Regions from separate parts of the Homo sapiens genome. Here region 2 is linked to region 1. The links come from fine-mapping of genetic effects on gene expression. A gene starts in region 1. The other region holds a variant in brackets. All regions are shown on one strand. Distances are from middle to middle. Region 1 holds the start of LINC02794 (long intergenic non-protein coding RNA 2794). Region 2 has its middle 5.6 kb from the start of TRABD2B.

Evidence for each region. PIP is the estimated chance that this variant, and not a neighbour inherited with it, causes the effect. A credible set is the group of variants that fine-mapping cannot tell apart.
Region 2: its variant is the best candidate, but not a certain one, in a credible set for the expression of LINC02794 in tibial nerve (GTEx, PIP 0.82).

Annotation. Positions count from the first base shown.
Region 1 is chr1:48,048,092-48,051,008 of GRCh38, forward strand. It overlaps LINC02794 (long intergenic non-protein coding RNA 2794), which reads left to right and starts at 1,680. Exons shown (of 15, transcript XR_007066073.1): 1 at 1,680-2,722.
Region 2 is chr1:48,001,549-48,004,465 of GRCh38, forward strand. No RefSeq gene overlaps it. Among named protein-coding and RNA genes, the nearest start is that of TRABD2B, 5.6 kb to the left of the region's middle. The variant C/T (reference allele first, on the strand shown) is at 1,701.

The DNA of each region.
Region 1 (2,917 bases):
TTAATTAAATAACATTTACAAATTTTGTGCCAGGCATTTTAGAAGACCATGATCCCAGTCTGCTGGAGAGGCAGATACACAAATCCATACCCATAACACAAAGCAGAATGAGCTCAGAACTGTCGGAGCACAGTGGAGCAAGTGATTCATTCTCCCTCAGGGATCTGGGGGCGGCTTCAGAGAGGAGGCAGCGGATGATCTGGGCCTTGAAGGATGCACTGGGGGACAAAGATAGGGCCTGCTTTGTTCAGGGAGAATGAGTCACTTGGGGGCTAGAGACAGGTAGCCAGATACTCATGGGGGGTCCTGAATGGCTGAGGGGTGTGCTCTGTCCTCAGTAGGGCACGGGGAAAATGTGGAGGACCTGGGAAAAGGAAGGTGGCTGGAGGAGGAGGGTGAGCTCGCTCACTCTATCTATGGGAGACTAGAGTGGAGTTTGTTTTATTGATTGAAGTCAAATTCATGTGGTGCATACAGGAAAGGGGTCATTTCAGAGCCCCATCTATAAGTCAGACTGTGAGGCAGGTACTGAATACTTGATCTTTCCTGTTTTAACCCTGACAACAACGCTCCAAAGCAGGAATGGGAATTCAGCTTTCGACAGGAGGAAACAGGCTCGATGGTGAAGTACTGTGTCCCAGGTTACACAGTCAGAAGGTGGCGGAGCTAGAAGTGCACCCCCATCCCCACCGCCCATGGGGTGCCCACCTCCAGAGCTGTGACCCTTTTACAGGCCGCTCTGGCTGCTTGGTACCCAGCCCTCCCTGGACCCTGAGGCAGATATTTTCCACTGGACCCAGCACCCGTGTCCAAGGGCTTGGTCCAAGACATTTCCCGCTGGCCTCTGGTGATGCTGGGGTGTGGAGAGGAGTGAGTGCTCGAGGGGAGAGGAAGTGCCTTCCATCTCTCCTGTCATGGGACACCCTCCAAGAATGGGCACCAGGCTCCCCACTGCCCCGGGTGGGGATAAACTCTTGAACTCTCTGCAGAGATAAAAAGCACTATCTTCTCCCAGCCCTGAGTGTTAGCAGATGGGGCCGCTAGGGCCAACCTCCAGCTGCCTCCACCCACACTGTGAGGAAAAGCTGTCTGAGGAGGGCAGGAGGGGCTGGTCCCTCAGACTCTGCCTCCATCCGGAGCTGCGCGAGCACGGCCATTCAGCACAGCCCCTGCCCAGCAGGGAGGACCCAGAGGTGAGCGTGCAAGGATCTGAGATGAGTGTTCACATCCTAGTTCTGCTACTTTTCTGAAATGGGCAGAAGATGGGCAAATTACTTCTGTGAGCCTTAGCTTCTCATCAGTAAAAGGGAGCTGATAACTCCTTCTAGGTGCTAAATGATATTATTCTTATAAAAGTGCCTAAATGAGTGTCTGGTGCATAGCACGCCCTTTGCAAGCAGATCATCTTCACAGTGTTGGGATGCAGTGAAGTCAGACTGTCCAGGTCCAAGTGCATCTGCACCTCCAGCTGTGTGACTTTGGGGAAGTTCACTTCAACTTGGGGCCTTGGTCTCCTCTTCTATAAAATGAGCGTTGTTGAGAGGGTGATGATGAGTTCACATAAAGCATCTAGGATAGTGCCTGCCATGATGGCAAACACTATGGAAGAATCAATTATTTATTATCAGCATAAGTCTGTGGTCTACCTTCTGACTGCTGAAGCCCCAGTGTCTTTTGCTTTCTTTCTCTTCCCCTGGGCAAACTTTCTCTCTCACATTCACATCCTCTCTTATGTCTCCGGAGGAAGGATGCTCTGTGGCTCCCTTAGCAGCAAATGTGGAGGAATTTGAGGCTGATGGGGACACAGCCTTTCTGGCCCAGCTTAGTTGAGACCATGAAGGCTGCCTCCTACTCCCTCTGTCCCATGCTGGAGAATGGAACATTCTATTCCTGATCCTGCAGACAAAATGTCGTTATGGTGATTCATGGACTCAGAATTCCAGAAAGTCCAGGCTGAAAGGGGCCTCAGAGGGCATCCTCCCTACTCCATGGCCTTGCCCTTGTCTCTCCACCTCCCCGATAGAAGGCACTAGATCTCAATATAAGCCCCAGGGCAGCAAGACTGATCTAGCTTCCCCATTATTCCGCTTGGGAATAATGCCCAAGGACCACTAGGCCTGAGTCTCACAGCTCCAGGCCTGGAAAGGAGCCTACTTGTCCCGTCACAGATCACAACTGGGCGGGCCAGCTCTGAGCCTTTGCTATTTGAAGGGATGTTTTGATAACCTCTTACCGCTCCTCCCCAACCCTGCAAAGCCCCACCTGATCACCCCACACTCTGGGCCTCCTCTTATCTCCTTACTCTAAGCTCCCCATCCATTACTGTCGGCTGGCAACACAAGTTTTATCTGAGCCTCTGTGGAATGGAATTGATTTCTGTGAATAATTGGAATAGCTGGCTAGTGACCCAGTATTGCTGCCACCAGGGTAGTTGGAGCTTCAAAGCTCTCATCCAACTCTGCCTCTCTCTCTCCATTCCCGTGGCTGTTGTCTGGTCCAAACCATCCTGACCTTCTGCTTGGATCATGATTACAGCTTCCTAACTGCGCTGCCTCTTTCTGATTACCCTGCACCCCATCATCCACTCCAATCTGTCCTCTACATAGCGGCTAAATAGATCTTTAAAAGCTCAAACCTGCCTAGACAGTAACGCCTTTCTACCTTGGCCTGCCATTTAGGGGTCTTTCTGATGGAATTCCAGCTTAACTTTCCAGCCTTACAGGTAAAAATTCACCTTCGTGTTCCCTAAGCATCAGTCAAAGGAGGCCTTTGCCCAATCCACTCCCTCAGGTGTATTCATTCATTCTGCCAACCACTGTTGAGCACCTACCTTGTCCAGTGCCTCCATGGGGCACTAAGAATACAGACAGGGATTAGGTGTAGACCTTGTCCTTAGGCAACATGTGGATTTGTGGGA
Region 2 (2,917 bases), 47 kb before region 1:
GAAAACCCGTCTCTACTAAAAATACAAATAATTAGCTGGGCGTACTGGCAGGCACCTGCAATCCCAGCTACTCAGGAGGCTGAGCAGGAGAACCTCTTGAACCCGGGAGGCGTAGGTTGCAGTGAGCCGAAATCACGCCACTGTACTCCAACCTGGGTGACAGAGAGAGACTCTGTCTCAAAAAAAAAAAAATTAAAAAAAAAAGAACCAGAAAAAGTGCAGAAACTAATTCAGAAAAGGGCATTTTCTCCTGGCAATGGGAAAATAGACACATAGTCACAAAAGTGCAACAAAGGATTAAAATTGCCATATAATATGGCATTCATTAAAAACAAAACCCCTACGTGGGCCTGCCCAGTGGGGGAGTAGAGAGTACATAGGAATCAGTCCAGGGTTTTGTTCCTAGGGAGCTTGCAATCCAGTGAGGAAGACAGAGATGCAAACAAACAGGGGGCTTTGGGAAACAAATAGAGGGGACAAAAGGAGCAACGAAGTCAGCCTTAGGAGAAAGGAGATCAGCAAAGGTCTTTGCTGAGAAGGTCATGTTTCAGTTGATTTTTAAAGATGAGCAGGAGTTGGACAGGGAATAGGAAGAAGGGAAGGTCAGGCAGTGGGAACTGAATGTGCTAAGACATGGGACTGCAATTGCTTGGCACATACAGGGATTGTCAACAATGAAGGCGGAGAGGAGAGGCAGAATGGAGGAGAACTACTGGGGAGACTCAGAAATCAGACTGTACCAGGAAGGACTATGCATTATCTTGGAAATCCCTTCATCCTGCCATTCAGAGGAGATAATCCCCTGAGCTTGCTCTGCATAAATTGTGGGTGCTGGTTGAGGGTGGCTGACCTGCCAGGTACCAGACGGGCTGTGTGCAGCCTCAGGGATATAATAGCAATGAGAGGCATTGGCTGTGTTAACTCACAAATATTTACTGGGTCCCCATATGAATTGTGGTGTCTTAGGCAGGAAGGAATATAGTCCTGCCCTCTGGATACTTGCCATTTCTGAACAAGACAAAACATGGGTAGGTGGTAAGTTAAGATGCATTTATGTGAATAGTGCTGCGATGAATATGGTAGGTATAGATATCTCTGGATCATGCTGTTTTCATTTCCTATAGATATATACCCAGAAGTGGGATTGCTGGATCAAATGGTAGTCCTATTTCTAATTTTTTGAAGAGCATTCATTCTGTTTTTCATAATGGCTTTACCAATTTACATTCTTACCGACAGTATAGACGGACTGGTCAAAAGTATAAATTTTCAGTTATATGATGAATAAGTTCTGGGAATCTAATATACAGCAAGTGTGGTGACGGATGTGTTTTTTACTTTGATTTTAATAATCATTACATAATATATACATATATTAAATTATCACTTTGTATACCTTGAATATATACAATCTTCTTTTTTTTTTGAGATGGAGTTTCCCTCTTGTTGCTCAGGCTGGAGTGCAGTGGCGCAATCTCGGCTCACTGCAACCTACGCCTCCCAGGTTCAAGCAATTCTCCTGCCTCAGCCTCCTGAGTAGCTGGGATTACAGGTGCCTGCCACCACGCCCAGCTAAGTTTTTGTATTTTTAGTAGAGATGGGGTTCACCATGTTGGCCAGGCTGGTCTCGAACTCATGACCTCAGGTGATCTGCCTGCTTTGGCCTCCCAAAGTACTGAGATTACAGGCATGAGCCACAG[C/T]GCCTGGCCAGACTTTACAATCTTTATTTGTCAATTAAATATTTTTAAAGAGAAAAAGAGTTAGAAATCACCACCCACCCACTCGCATGCATGGAAGGGCCAGGGGAGTGGTGCAGTATTGTAAAAGTCCAGGCAAAGTCAGTGAGCTGAAGACTCTCACCTTCGTATAGAACTACTAAATGATCCTGGCGGAGGCAGGATTTGAATTAGGCTATAAAGGAAAAGTAGGATTTAAATCGATGTAAAGGGCCTTGCTTGCATTCCAGATAATGGGAATGAGGAAAGTGAAAGGGCCAACATGGGGTAGGGAAAAGAAGGTTCTGGTTAGAGTAGAAGGGGTGAATATTGAGATAGCAGGCTGAAGTCGGGACTGGGCTGGGGTGCAGTTTGGCCATGAAGGAGGAAAAGGAGCTGGGGGTTATTGCAGACCAATTCTGTGAAAGACCCTGTATCTAAAGGATTGTAATGATGTTGTGAGACAGATATTTTTATCCCCATTTTAAAGATGAGGAAACTGGGTCTCAGAGGGGAGGCATGACACATTCAAGTCATATAGCTGATAATTAGAAGAACTGGACTGTCTAGCTCTTTCCACTAAAGCATTTGCTTCCTTTAAGACATGAATGGGAAGGTAGCACAGATAGCACAGGCCAGATGGTATGGCTAGTAAACACACACACACACACACACACACACACCACACACACACTGGGGGGCACATACATACCAAATATGGCAATTCCTGTGCTGTGGCTCCCAATCTAATTAGTGGGATGATTGCCATTTAGGAGACTTTTGCCTTTCACTTTAGCCCAAGCTGTGTGAGGCTCCACTCCTCTATTTGGGATTCAATAGGAGTATGGAAAGGGAAAAAAGAAATGTGATGCTTGAAACAAAATACCCCGTCGAGCTGACCACTAAATAGCACTTAGACCCCAAGTATACACACAGCTGCTTTATGTAATGAAGGCTGTGGACCATGTTCCTGGATATAAAATAACAAACCACATATAAAGTTTTATGTTGCTGTGTAATTAGCACAGATCTGTGAGTGAGCATGCAGGCCCGGGTGAGGGGAGGGGTGCTTAGGCCCCGGGCAATGAGCTGTGGAGGAAAGAGCATGCACGGTGGAGCCCAGAAGACAAGAGTTTGAATTCCTGCTCCACCACTTTGTAGCCCTTTGACCTTGGGCAAGTTATTTAAACACTGTAAGCTTC